2 linked regions of the Homo sapiens genome follow. Each later gene encodes a partner of the first gene's protein in a complex. Each region holds a gene or a part of one and is shown on either strand. Other genes may lie near its edges.

Region 1 (7,022 bases):
CCGGCCTCCTGTACCGATCTCCAACGCGACCAAACGCAGTTTCCTAGGCAGCCCTGCTGCAGGGACCCTGGCTGAGCTGCAGCCCCCCGTGCAGCTGCCGGCGGAAGGCTGTCACAGGCACTACCTGCACCCGGAAGAACCTGAATACCTGTAAGTCTGTCTTTCTGCTTTCAGAATCAGTTCACCATCTTGTGTCCCTTTTTGTGTTAGTTTAAAATATTAATTGAAGTTACCTTTTTTAAAATAAGCAATTTGTATTCGCTTATGAAAGATTTTCCTTCTGTCCCTGCCCTTCTGGCCATTCGGTCCCCTTTCCAGAGGCCGGGAATGATACTAGCAGGAAGTTCCTTCAGGGATGTGTACCTAATTCTGACATTGTTTATGGAACAGGTGTTTTTCTGTTCTCTTTTCCACCATGTGTTACACTGTTTAAGAAACGATCTAAAGATTAGAAAGTTGAATTGACAGTTTAGGTGTGCTCTTTATGGTCTGATAGACATAAAGAGTGAAATCCTCTTGCATTTCAAGTATTGTGAAGTCTTCAAAGAAGAGAATTTGTTTGCTCTTTGGGGAAGAATTAATTTGATTCGAGTGAAAAAGTGTATAGAGCTGCTTAAAGGCTAAACTACTCTAGAAAAAGAGTTGTTTAAAAAACGTTTTTTCTAAAATGAATTTTCATCATGAAGACCTAATTTGGATAACCATATCTGGGGTAGAATTGACTGTGCCAGAATTGGGGGAGGGGGTGAAGGAAGCTTCCCTTGGAGTAAGAGTGAGCTTTGTGCTGTGTGTGGTAGGAGGACCCACAGCTGATGCCAGCCTGGAGCCAGTTAGCACACCGAAAGTGGAGAAACATTTTTAACATGTGGCGATTTAAGTTGGGATTTAAGATGAAGACGCTATTTAAAAGTGGTTTTAAATAATTCACATAAGTGAATGGTTCAGTGAGACAGCATGGCATAGAACGAACTCAGTTGTTTCAGGTTGTTTGAGAGGAGCTAAAACCGGTGACCATGTTGAGGGATGGGATGCGGGGGCTGCCGGAGTCAGGAGGAAGGAGTTGAGAGGCCCTTGTGATACAGGCAGTGGTGGGGGGGTACACACCCAGGGGTGGGGCATAGCTGAGGGAGGGGTTTGGATGTGTTCTGTGTTGGGCGGCTTTGAGACTGGGGTGTCTGTCCCCAGAGCTCAGAGCAGAGGTGGGGCGGTAACTCCATGCCCGCGGGCACAGGCGGGGTCACTGAGTGAGGAGAATGGCTCGAGGCTGAGCCGTCCCTCACATGGGGCCAGCGTGGACACTTGGCGTCCTCCCTTCGGTCTTTGCGTGTCTGTTGTTGAGCCGTGTGTGTGTGTGTGTGTGTGCTGGTGCCCGTGTACACGCTGCTCTGTGACCTGCTGTCTGCACCCTGTTGTCTGCACCCAGCAGCCTGTGGTGAGAATTTTCCCACTCGGTGCATCCTCGTCTGCCACAGTTTCAACAGCTACCCAGTCTGTCACGTCATGGGCGTGCCGTGATGGGTCCACTGTCCCCACGGTGTCCAGGCTGCAGGGTTTGCATTGTGGCCCTGACACAGGTCCCTGTGCCATTCCTGCTCTGCCCAGCTTCCCCCCGGGCTCCCTGCCTTGAGCCCCTCTCTCCGCAACCCTTTCGCTTGTGTGCTCCTGCACACCTGCTCTCACTGTGTCTCTTTGGTGTCTGTGTCCTGACTCTGGTGTCCTCTGCCCGTCTTTGCCTCTTCAGGCCTAGGTGTGCTGACTCTGGCCTAGGGTGCCGAGCTGTCCCCTGTGATCTCCCCAGCCTGTCTGCACCTGGCGAATTATCCCTTTACCAAATTCTCCCCAAAGTGAAACAAGCAAGATAGCTGCCCTGCAGTGTGAGCGCGCTTGTTTCTCGGGGAGCTGGTGCCTGTGGAGTGGCAGAGGCTGCTGGGTGCCGGTCTCATGGGTGTTGCTCTGTCAGAACTGTGCGATCCGCACACGTGTGACTTCCGCCTTTCCTGCATGTGCCGTTCTTCCCGGGAGTGAGGCCTTCACACCCATGCTTCTGTGTGCACCTCTCATCGTTCTTTCTCTTAAGCTATAATCCAAGGAGTGGTAAAGGTGTGAGTGATTTTAGAGGTTTTTATGGATATTGCCATATTGTCCTCTAAAAATGTACATTTTTACCCTCCCACCAGCAGTGTGGGAATGTTCATGCTGCCGTCTGTGATGGGTTTAATTACTCATCAATATCTTCACAGTGGTGGCTTAGTACATTGGGCATCATCCTTGTGGTCTCTTTTATCTCTGAAGTTCTCTCTCTTTTTTTTAATTGAAGCAGTAATGTGCATTTTTGAAAACTGTTGCTTGTCAGAGGATCACTTTTTCTTTTTACTTTTGCTTATCTCAGAAAATCACTCTAATTGCACGCTTGGGTTTTGCTTTTCCCGTGGGAAGCTGGTTGTGTTGTAGACACATCGGGGAGTCAGTGTGCCCGTTTGCAGTGTGTGGATGTTCATCCCAGGTTGGAAGTTCCTGATACTCTTGGCTCATTTTTATTGTCATTTTTTTCCCAAACAGTCCGAGTTTCTCAAAACTTGGTGTGAATTCAGGATGGTCCTGTACACTTGTGCATTTGCTGTTGACCTTGAAGTTTGATAAAGGAATGATTTTCCCTGTAATTCTTTTTCCATTTAGCGGGAAAGGAACTGCTGCCTTCAGCCCATCCCATCCTTTATTGCCACTGAGACAGAAACAGCAGAAATCCATACAGGGAGAGGACATCCCTGGTAAGAATGTTGTTTCCTCCTTTTTTCCTTAATTTCTCCTTACTATAGATTAGTAAAATCATATTTCTCAAAATTAAATCATTTTATCTGATGTAGTGATTTTTTTGTTTGTTTGTTTGTTTTTTGAGATGGAGTCTTGCTCTGTCACCAGGCTGAAGTGCTGTGGCGCGATCTCGGCTCACTGCAGCCTCTGACTCCCTGGTTCAAGCAATTCTCCTGCCTCAGCCTCCCACATAGCTGGGATTATAGGCGCATGCCACCATGCTCAGTTAATTTTTGTATTTTTAGTAGAGACAGGGTTTCATCATGTCGGCCAGGATGGTCTCGATCTCCTAGCCTCATGATCTGCCCACCTCGGCCTCCCAGAGTGCTGGAATTACAGGTGTGAGCCACTGTGCCCGGCTGATGTAGTGATTTTAGTTAAGACTGTAGCCAAATAAATTTTAACTTGTGTTGTCAAAATGTATAGTCTTGCAGTGAAAATATCGTTGAGAGCAATTACCTTCTGTGTAGTAGACACAGAGTAACTGCGACATAAGCAGGGCTCACACATGCTGAAGCTCTCTCACAGTTCTGAACTGTGTGTTACCATCAAAATGTGGGACAACTGTATGGTTTTGCCTCTCTGCTTTCCATGCGGCCCTTCTGGTGTACTGACTTGAGAGGCATTTTTCTGGACAAATGGTCATATTGAAAGAATTTCAAGTGATAGAAAATTGGTTACTTAACACTATCTAATTCCTCTGTACTGCAGATCAGCGACATCGATCGAATTCTTTGACCCGAGTTGATGGTCAGCCTCGAGGAGCAGCAATAGCCTGGCCAGAAAAAAAAACCAGGTGAGTCTGTGTTTCAGCAGTGTTTCTGTTTGGAATGTTTTTTATACTAAACAGCAGTTCTTAAGATGTCACCCCAACCCCCTGAGGATCACCGAGACCCTTTTATAGGGAGTGCCTGAAATCAGAATTATTTTTATAACAACACTAGGAAGTTACTGCCTCTCTGCAGCCTCACTCTTGCGAGTGTGCCGTGGGATTTTTCAGAGGCTGCATACCATGTGGTGTGGCAGCAGGTGGAGTCAGGTATGAGGGTCCAGCCAGATCCCAGAACTATACAGGTGTCAAATAGTGCCTGCCCTTAACACTAGGAACTTCTTCCGTTCTGGCGAATATAGTCATTTGTCATGGAGTGGGCTAATTACTGTAATTTTAATCAGTGTTTAGAAAATGTCTGAGCTTTAATTTGTAGGATGATAAATAGAGATTAATACTGATAAATAGAAACAAAAGCTCTTTGAGGTCCTCAGTAATTTTGAAGGGTATCAAGAGGTCCTGGGACTAGAGTGTTTGAGAATCACAAAGCTGAAATTATCTCTGATTTTCTTCTGCTCTGTGGAAGAGTGAGTTTAAATCTCCTGCATATGAGAGGCGTATTCTCTTTGTGTGGCCGGCATTCTCACCCCCTGGTCCATGTTGGGGGTCTTTGGTGTATACCGCAGCGCACCCAGTGGGCCTTCCCTGTGTTTCAGGCCTGCGTCCCAGCCAACACCTTTTGCTCTACATCACGCTGCGAGTTGTGAAGTGGATCCCAGCTCTGGCGACAGCATCAGCTTGGCCCGCTCCATCAGCAAAGACAGTTTGGCATCCAACATTGTTAATCTGACCCCACAGAACCAGCCACACCCCACGGCCACGAAGAGCCACGGGAAGAGCCTCCTGAGCAATGTCAGTATTGAGGATGAGGAAGAGGAGCTTGTGGCTATTGTTAGAGCAGACGTGGTTCCCCAGCAGGCTGACCCGGAGTTCCCCAGGGCCTCACCCCGGGCCTTAGGCCTTACAGCAAATGCCCGGTCTCCCCAAGGACAGCTGGACACCTCGGAAAGTAAGCCTGACAGTTTTTTCTTGGAGCCTTTGATGCCAGCAGTTCTTAAGCCAGCGAAAGAGAAGCAGGTGATCACCAAGGAGGATGAACGGGGGGAAGGGAGACCGAGGAGCATCGTGTCTAGGAGGCCCAGCGAGGGCCCCCAGCCTTTGGTACGAAGGAAAATGACTGGCAGTCGCGACTTGAATAGGACTTTTACCCCGATTCCATGCTCAGAATTCCCCATGGGCATCGACCCCACCGAGACAGGACCACTGTCAGTGGAAACCGCAGGAGAGGTCTGTGGTGGGCCTCTGGCCCTTGGCGGATTCGATCCGTTCCCCCAGGGACCATCCACGGATGGCTTCTTCCTTCATGTAGGCAGGGCCGATGAAGACACCGAGGGAAGGTTATATGTTAGTTGTTCAAAAAGCCCCAACTCCCACGATTCAGAGCCGTGGACTCTCCTCAGGCAGGATTCTGACTCGGATGTGGTGGACATAGAGGAAGCCGAGCACGATTTCATGGGTGAGGCCCATCCTGTGGTTTTCAGCAGATACATTGGGGAGGAAGAGTCGGCCAAACTGCAGGAGGACATGAAGGTGAAGGAACATGAAGACAAAGATGACGCCAGCGGCCGCTCGAGCCCCTGCCTGAGCACAGCCTCTCAGATGAGCAGTGTCTCCATGGCGAGTGGGAGCGTGAAGATGACCAGCTTTGCGGAGAGGAAGCTCCAGAGACTCAACAGCTGTGAGACCAAGTCCAGCACCAGCAGCTCCCAGAAGACCACGCCAGATGCGTCTGAGAGCTGCCCAGCCCCTCTGACGACGTGGAGGCAGAAGAGGGAGCAGAGTCCGAGCCAGCATGGCAAGGATCCCGCCAGCCTCCTGGCATCTGAGCTGGTACAGCTGCACATGCAGCTGGAGGAGAAGCGCAGGGCCATCGAGGCCCAGAAGAAGAAGATGGAGGCGCTGTCGGCAAGGCAGCGCCTGAAGCTCGGCAAGGCTGCATTCCTGCATGTGGTGAAGAAGGGCAAGGCCGAGGCTGCCCCACCCCTCAGGCCGGAGCACTTTGCAAAGGAGTACTCTCAGCACAACGGGGAGGACTGTGGGGACGCTGTTTCCAAAACCGAAGACTTTCTCGTGAAGGAGGAGCAGAGAGAGGAGCTCCTTCACGAGCCACAGGATGTGGACAAAGAGAGCCTGGCCTTTGCTCAGCAACATAAAGCAAAAGACCCTGTGGCTCTGCACGAGCTGGAGAGAAATAAGGTGATCTCCGCTGCCCTCCTGGAGGACACTGTTGGGGAGGTTGTCGACGTGAATGAATGTGACCTTTCCATCGAGAAGCTTAACGAAACCATCAGTACGCTGCAGCAGGCCATCCTGAAAATCTCTCAGCAGCAAGAGCAGCTTCTGATGAAGTCCCCCACAGTCCCAGTGCCAGGCTCTAAGAATAACTCGCAGGACCACAAAGTGAAGGCACCAGTCCACTTCGTGGAGCCACTCTCTCCCACGGGCGTGGCTGGCCACCGCAAAGCCCCCCGGCTGGGTCAAGGCCGGAATTCCCGTTCCGGAAGGCCGGCGGAGCTGAAGGTCCCAAAAGACAGGCCACAGGGCTCCTCCCGAAGTAAAACCCCAACGCCCAGTGTAGAGACGCTCCCGCACTTGAGACCCTTCCCTGCCAGCAGCCACCCTCGGACGCCCACGGACCCTGGCCTGGACAGTGCCCTGGAGCCCAGTGGTGACCCACATGGGAAGTGTCTCTTCGACAGTTACAGGCTCCATGATGAAAGCAATCAGCGGACACTTACTCTGTCCTCTTCCAAAGATGCCAACATTCTTTCGGAGCAGATGAGCCTCAAAGAAGTTCTGGATGCGAGTGTGAAGGAGGTGGGGTCCAGCTCCTCAGATGTCTCGGGAAAAGAGAGCGTCCCCGTGGAGGAGCCTCTGAGGAGCAGGGCCAGCCTCATTGAAGTGGACCTCTCCGACCTGAAGGCCCCCGACGAGGATGGGGAGCTGGTAAGCCTCGATGGCTCGGCGGACCTTGTCAGCGAAGGCGACCAGAAGCCGGGGGTCGGCTTCTTCTTCAAGGTAAGGGATTGGTAGCATCTGTTTCAGGCACTCGTGATGTGTTGCCACCCCACGTGATAGTGAGTTAGAGAACACAGATCTGCACCAGGCTGGCCAGCCGCTCCTGTAAGAGGCCAGGGGATGTGTGTGTTTAGCTTTGTGGGCCACAGAGTCTCTGTCCCGAGGACTCCACTTGGCCAGAAGCAGTCCCGGGCAATACGCATGCAAGTGAGCGTGGTGTGGCTGAGACGACTTTGTTATGAGCCCTGAAACTGGAATTTCATGTGATTTTCAACATAGTTTTTTTTTTTTTGCTGGTTTTCCA
Region 2 (7,064 bases), on another chromosome or scaffold:
GGCTCACTGCAACCTCTGCCTCCAGGCTTCAAGCGATTCTCCTGCCTCAGCCTCCCGAGCAGCTGGGATTACAGGCGCCCGGCATCACGCCTGGCTAATTTTTGTATTTTTAGTAGAGACGGGGTTTCACCACGGTCTCGAGCTCCTGACCTCAGGTGATCCGCCCACCTTGGCCACCCAAAGTGTTGGGATTACAGCAGTGAGCAACCGCGCCCGGCCTCAAATGTCACTTTCTCAGCAAACCCTTTCCTGGCGTGTTCCCTGCCTTCTCGTGTTCCTGGTGTATCCTGCCTGTTCCACAGTGGTCAATGGATTTGTGCTTACTCTAAGATCTCTCGCTATATTGTAACCATTACTTTCCATTTCTGCCTTCACACTCACCCACCTCCAGGACTGGATTAGGGGAACCGTGTCTTTCCCCTAGGGTCCATCATATTCATTCAATGGTTATGGTATACCTGTTTGAAGTATTTGGTATACATCTGTGAACCAAACATGAAATCGACCCTGCCCTCGGGAAGGCTCATCACCGAGCCTACTGATGAAGGAACAAATGAGATGGAAAGAAAATAGCATAAATGGAATTCACCTGAAAATATGCCACTCTAGAGGGAAACTGTTGACAGGTAGGGAAAGTAGGATGCCCCATGGATAAAGTGTCAACTCCGTCTTTATGACAGGCCAACTCAGCGGGTGCCCACCACGCTTGGCTCCAATTCAAAGAGCCACCATCTTTGGTCCCCACCTCAGTGGGTTCCCTTGTGGCCCGACGTCTCCCTGTGTCTTCATACCTAAACTCGGAGCGGGGCGCCAGGTAAGGATGAGTATTACAGTCCGAGAAGCGAACTTCCAAGTCACCTCCGCCCAGTCGCACCCAAGGTACGCCCCTCCCGCCTTCTGGGGGAACCAAGATGGCTCCCGGGGAGCCGTGGGCCAGGCCCCTAGAACTCACCTACTTTAAGTCCCCGCGCGCGCCACCAGTAACGGTCGCGACCCAGGTGGAGCGACTGCGTGTGCCGAAAAAGAGCTTATTTGCTGATTGGCTTCTGCCGCTGTCTTTCACAACCGCAGCCAGTCGAGCGGAGGCACACCCAAAGCCCCGCCCCCTTAGAGTTCAAATAGGTGGTGTCTCCCAGGCTGCTGAGATCAGTTAATGAGACGGTAATTGAAGGCCGCCGTGCGCCAACAGAATAATGCACGTCGATTGGGCAGCTCCAAGGGACAACCCACTACCGCTTGCCCGCCCACCACCCACTTCCCGCGCAGTTCCAAACCGCGACCAGAGAGTCTGGCGCCAGCTGCCGGCAACGGATAGAGGGGCTGTGTCATAGACGTCCGACGTGTCTGGTAAGGCCAGAGCGCCTTTCCTCGGTCCTCCTAGACATGGTGTCCGCTGACTCATGAGAAATGAAAGTGGGTTGCGCGTTGCAGTCGTGGCTGGAGGCTGCAGTTTGGAGAACAGCCCGTAGGCGTGGCAGTTCACTCCTGTTGCATTGGAATTTCATTTCCTTTTGATTTGGTTTGTAGTAGAAGTAATATCTTTCTTCCTGGGAATACGTCTCTGACGGACATTTTGAGGTCATTTTCTTAAATCCAAGATCCTAAAGATCTGTAGTCGAACAGAGAAAACTGGTTTGCTCTCTGTCTTAAAGGCTGTCCCCACCTTTCGAGGGGCGAGGGAAGGATCATAAAATCATTTATTTTTATTTTTTAATTAACTAATTTATCTATTTTTTGAGATGGAGTTTTGCTCTTGTTGCCCAGGCTGGAGTGCAATGGCGCGATCTCGACTCACCGCAACCTCTGCCTCCCAGGTTCAAGCGATTCTCCTGCCTCAACCTCCCAAGTAGCTGGGATTACAGGCATGCGCCACCACGCCCAGCTTATTTTTGTATTTTTAGTAGAGACGTGGTTTCTCCATGTTGGTCAGGCTGGTCTCGAACTTCTGACCTCAGGTGATCCGCCCGCCTCGGCCTCTCAAAGTGGTGGGATTACAGGCGTAAACCACCGCATGCGGCCATCTATATTTTATTTTTTGAGACGGACTTTCGCTCTTGTTGCCTAGGCTGGAGTGCAATGGCGCGATCTCGACTCACCGCAACCTCCGCCTTCTGGGTTCAAGCAATTCTCCTGTCTCAGCCTCCCGAGTAGCTGGGATTACAGGCATGCGCTACCACGCCCGGCTAATTTTGTATTTTTAGTAGAGACGGGGTTTCTCCATGTTGGTCAGTCTGGTCTCAAACTCCGGACCTCAGGTGATTCTCCCGCCTGGGCCTCCCAATGTGCTGGGATTACAGGCGTAAGCCACTGCGCCCGGCCTATTTTATCTCACAATAAGACATGAAGAAAATGGTAACTATAACACTTGCATAATTCATAAAGTCCTTTCTGTTGGTTATCTCAATTCTGTGCACAACAGTCAAATAAGCAGATTTTACAAACGAGGAGCTGGAGCCCTGCAAAGTTAAAGGACTTTCCTAGGATCCTACAGCTAATATAGAGACAAATTGAAACAAGTTATCTGATTGTGTATTTTGAGTTATTTCTACTCCCACAAAATGACTGTGTTCATTTCCCTAAAACGTAAAGCATTATATTTTAAGTGGGTAGAGAGGGCTTACACAAGTTGATGTTCCCTCATTTAGAAGGCAACTTAGAAATACATTGATCTGCCCAGCGCGGTGGCTCACGCCTGTAATCCCAGCACTTTGGGAGGCAAAGGCGGGCGAATCACGAGGTGAGGAGATCGAGACCATCCTGGCTAACACAGTGAAACCCTGTCTCTACTAAAAATACAAAAAAAAAAAAAAGAAATACATTGATCTGTGTGATCGAATGTGAATTAACAATGACGTTGACTTGATACTACATTTCTGAGTGGTTACCACATTTTATTGATTGTATGCTTCTCACCAGACTGCAACATCCTGGAGGACAGGGAGCTAATTCTTAATCATTTTGTAACCATAGCTCCTAATTTGGTGGATACATAGTAACTATCAAATAAGTGAATAATAAATCTATGGGAAGAAGCAGATGGACTCCGTCTTGAACCCACTCAATTTTTCCCCCATCAATTACCCCTCTCTCGTTTTTCAATACTGGGTCTCTTGCAGAGTTGCAGTGGCGGCCACCTGGTCAGTGAAATCAGCGAATTGAAAAACCACTGACTTCATTAACATGTCTAAAGAGGCAGGCTGAAAAAACTGAAAATCTATCAGGCATCTCATTCCATAGTTCCCTGTTTGACAAGAAGACCAAGGTGTCTTCAAAGTCTGCCCTAAGGTCCAGATCTCCTACCCACGTAGGAGACTTCTAGTTTCACAAATCCCCGATGTCGGTTTCTCTAAACTATTTTATTCTTTGAACATACTCTCCAGACAACATCGCTATCCTGAAAAGCCCTTGCTGCAATTTTGTTTCTCTTTCAAAACAATGGCTCGAAAATTTCCAAGGAAATAGCAAGAGGGCGATTCCCTTCTTGAAGTATTTGAGGGAGCAGAAGCTTACTGAAGTTCATGCCTTGGGTCACCAAAGGCCAGGGGAGGCAGAGCACGGTGCCAGACTTCTCCCCATTTTTCGCTGAACTAAGCAATCCTTTCTCCCCTAGAGGTACTGCAGCTGGGAGCTTTCAGGGCGTGTCTTCCCCACCACCCAACTTCTGGAACCCCAGACTTCTCAATTCCTGTACCCCCAAGAACTGCTCACTTTTTGTACAAAAACCTCAGGCATAGAGGAAAGGAATCTTGCGCAAGGTCGTTTTTCATTTACAAAACAAAAACCCCATGAAAACCAAACCGGTACCCACCCATTCGTCACTTCATTTTGCAGCATGGACAACAATAGGGGACTACAACTCCCAAAGAGGACTGCGCTCGTCCACTGGCTCAGAGGCCAATGGACGCCTGGTACATGACCGGCATCGACTAATCAGGGCCAGGCTCGATGAGGCTTTGTCTCCCTACCGCGCGCGGGGCCGATTCTCCCGCCTCCCAGCCCCGGCGCACGCGCGCCCCGCCCAGCCTGCTTTCCCTCCGCGCCCTCCCCTCTCCTTTCTCCCTCTCAGAACCTTCCTGCCGTCGCGTTTGCACCTCGCTGCTCCAGCCTCTGGGGCGCATTCCAACCTTCCAGCCTGCGACCTGCGGAGAAAAAAAATTACTTATTTTCTTGCCCCATACATACCTTGAGGCGAGCAAAAAAATTAAATTTTAACCATGAGGGAAATCGTGCACATCCAGGCTGGTCAGTGTGGCAACCAGATCGGTGCCAAGGTAAGAATTTTACACCTCTTTTATTTCTTTTTACAAGGAAAAATCCAGGTAAGTTATGAAAAAATGGTTGTGGGGCATTTGCACCCGCTATCCTTAATCAAGATTTGCCCCTCTCAAGTTTGTTACATTTATATATATAACAATTGTAGCTAGCATTTGCCTTTGGAAAGCTGGGAATCATTTTTCTTGGCAGGCACATTTTGGAGAAACTAGTAAAAGGGCTCTTCGGGTTTGGGGGCGGGAAGACCGAGGACTTATAAGATGTTACTTAAAAGGGCTTCTAACGGTCCGAGAACCGGGCAGGGAGAGAGATGCGGAAACGGTCGCAGACAAAGCGGGGCGAGGTTTTGCCCATGTGCATCCCGCCCAACCCCCCTGCGGGGTACTTAGGGCCAAACCGGAGCGGGAAGGGGTGAGGCCATCGGGCGGCTGCAGAGAGCTCCAGCGCAAGGGTGGGGGGCGATGCGCCAGGGTGGGCTGCGCTGGGCGCTACCTTTCACAAAAGACCAGGGACCCCAACGCGCCCGCGACCCCAGAGGGCCGGTCCTGTATTTGTTCCTGGGTGGAAGGAGAATAAGAACGGGATTAATTTTACTTGCTTTCATGGCCCCTAAGAGAGACTTTTTTAGGGCGTGAACAGATATGTCGAGAAAATGGGGGTGTGTGGTTTTCTTTAATGAGTCCCTCAGGACTTAATGGGAGAGAAAGAATCCTTTAAATCAAGGGGTAGAAATGTAGCGAAGGAATAAAAATTCCGAGGCCAAGGGGGATTTTTTTTTTTTGCGCGCGGTTACAGTGTAGCGGGGGAGGGGCGGGAGGAAGTGCGGCTGCTACGTTGTAGCAGAAGGGCGGGGCCCTGCGGGGCGGGGCCGGGGCGCCGTGGGCGCGCGGGGACAATGCGGCGTTGCCCGCCGGCAGGGGCGCGCTACCTTGGGCCCCGCCCCTCGCGCGCGGAATTTTTGTCCCTGGCCCCGCCCACGCGCGAAGTCTTTTGTCGGCGGCTCGACCTGCGCGTGCGCCGCAGTCACGTGGAGGGCGGGGGGGGTGGTCGACTGCGGCGGCAGCTCTTTCCTCAGACCCCCAGCCTTTTGTGCGCCGCGCGGTGGGGCGGTGCCCAGCTTGGGGGAAGGAGAGCGGCGCTTATCGAAGTGTGGTCGACCTCCATCCGCCCACCGAGCACTTGGGACCCGCTGCACATATCCAGAGCAGGGAAAGCTGTGGCTTTCTCGGGGGAGCGAGTGTCTAGGGGAAGGGTGTGGCAGGCCCACGGGATGCCATGCCCTAGAACAACGGCCTGAGCGCTTGTGGAATTAAAATGGGAGATGTGGGGCCGAGGTGGGCGAATTGGGATCCCTCCAGGTCAGGGGTTCGAGACCATCCTGGGCAACAAAGCGAGACCCTCCCCCATGCCACGTTTCTACAAAAAATAAAAGTAAAAAATTAGCTGGGCGTGGTGGCGCGCGTCTGTGGTCCCAGCTACTCGAGAGGCTGAGATGGGAGGATCGGTTGAGCCTGGGAGTTCCACGCTGTAGTCATCCGTGATTGCACCACTGCACTGCAGGCTGGGCAACAGGAAGACCCTGTCTTAAAAATTAGAAGAAGCTGGGCGCGGTGGCTCACCCTTGTAATCCCAGCACTTTGGGAGGCCAAGGTGGGCGGATCACGAGGTCAAGAGATCTAGACCATCCTGGCCAACATGGTGAAACCCGTCTCTACTAAAAATACAAAAAGTAGCTGGGCGTGTTGGTGCGCGCCTATAGTCCCAGCTACTCCGGGGGCTGAGGCAGGAGAATCGCTTGAACCCGGGAAGCAGAGGTTGCAGTGAGCCGAGATAGCGCCACTGCACTCCAGCCTGGTGACAGAGCGAGACTCCGTCTCAAAAAAAATTAAGAAAAAGATGAAATAAAATGGTAGTTGGGGACATAGTTGGCTGGGACTTGACCTGTTGTGGTCTCGTTGCTCCCCCTCGGCAGTTCTGGGAGGTGATCAGTGATGAACATGGCATCGACCCCACCGGCACCTACCACGGGGACAGCGACCTGCAGCTGGACCGCATCTCTGTGTACTACAATGAAGCCACAGGTAAGGGCAGGAGCCCGGGCAGCTCAGGTTCCCTTCCCTGTCTCCCACTTATCTGGGATCTCTTTCCATTTCTGGGCACGCCTTATCCCCTTTGGGTGAATCTGTCATTTTGTCCCTTTCGTGAACCACCGTCGGGGCCAAAGACGTCTGCTGCCACCTGGTGGCGGGACCTGGAATGACAAGTCTCTGATCCCTGCTGTCTCCCATTTCCAGTATATCTATAAACCTTCCCTTCTGCCAGATTTCACAGCTCTTAACTTTATTCTCTGTAGGTGGCAAATATGTTCCTCGTGCCATCCTGGTGGATCTAGAACCTGGGACCATGGACTCTGTTCGCTCAGGTCCTTTTGGCCAGATCTTTAGACCAGACAACTTTGTATTTGGTGAGTTATACAGATGATATTAGCAGATGATATACCATCGTGTTCAACTTATTTGGGTGCAAGGACACAGCAAAAGTTAGGAGATGATTGTTGTATTGGAGTGCTAATACAGAAATGTGTTCTGAAATCTAACGGAGGGTAGAGGTAGTGCCTACTATTGCTGGTAAATTATGGGGCAGTAGGGGGAGAATATATCACAGTGAAGGAGAAAGAAGATACATCCGAGGGAATTATTTGAAAAGTTGAAAGATGGAAACATCATGTATCTTCCATACCCTGTTAATTGAGCTTTTCTCCTGACTGCATTCCAGGTCAGTCTGGGGCAGGT

What was found. The genes of interacting proteins can lie anywhere in the genome.
Region 2: the proteins of CAMSAP1 (region 1) and TUBB are in contact, whole or in part, in a cryo-EM structure (PDB 6QUS), measured with the Homo sapiens proteins. Residues at the interface, in NP_056262.3 of Homo sapiens: Cys1486, Cys1487, Leu1488, Ala1489, Gly1490, Lys1491, Val1492, Asn1493, Ala1519, Gly1520, Cys1521, Gln1522, Arg1562, Lys1563, Gln1564; in NP_821133.1 of Homo sapiens: Arg306, His307, Gly308, Arg309, Asn332, Asn335, Lys336, Ser338, Ser339, Tyr340, Glu343, Gln426.

What each region holds. Positions count from the first base shown.
Region 1 is NC_000009.12:135,820,535-135,827,556, reverse strand, and holds part of CAMSAP1 (calmodulin-regulated spectrin-associated protein 1), read left to right. Parts: coding exon 1-150; intron 151-2,676; coding exon 2,677-2,768; intron 2,769-3,522; coding exon 3,523-3,607; intron 3,608-4,296; coding exon 4,297-6,718; intron 6,719-7,022. UniProt on the Homo sapiens protein: Key microtubule-organizing protein that specifically binds the minus-end of non-centrosomal microtubules and regulates their dynamics and organization. Specifically recognizes growing microtubule minus-ends and stabilizes microtubules.
Region 2 is NC_000006.12:30,716,293-30,723,356, forward strand, and holds the start of TUBB (tubulin beta chain), read left to right. Parts: upstream 1-4,059; 5' UTR 4,060-4,214; coding exon 4,215-4,271; intron 4,272-5,345; exon of another isoform or gene 5,346-5,586; coding exon of another isoform or gene 5,587-5,703; intron 5,704-6,244; coding exon 6,245-6,353; intron 6,354-6,625; coding exon 6,626-6,736; intron 6,737-7,047; coding exon 7,048-7,064. Other genes in the region: MDC1 (mediator of DNA damage checkpoint protein 1), read right to left, coding at 590-649. UniProt on the Homo sapiens protein: Tubulin is the major constituent of microtubules, a cylinder consisting of laterally associated linear protofilaments composed of alpha- and beta-tubulin heterodimers.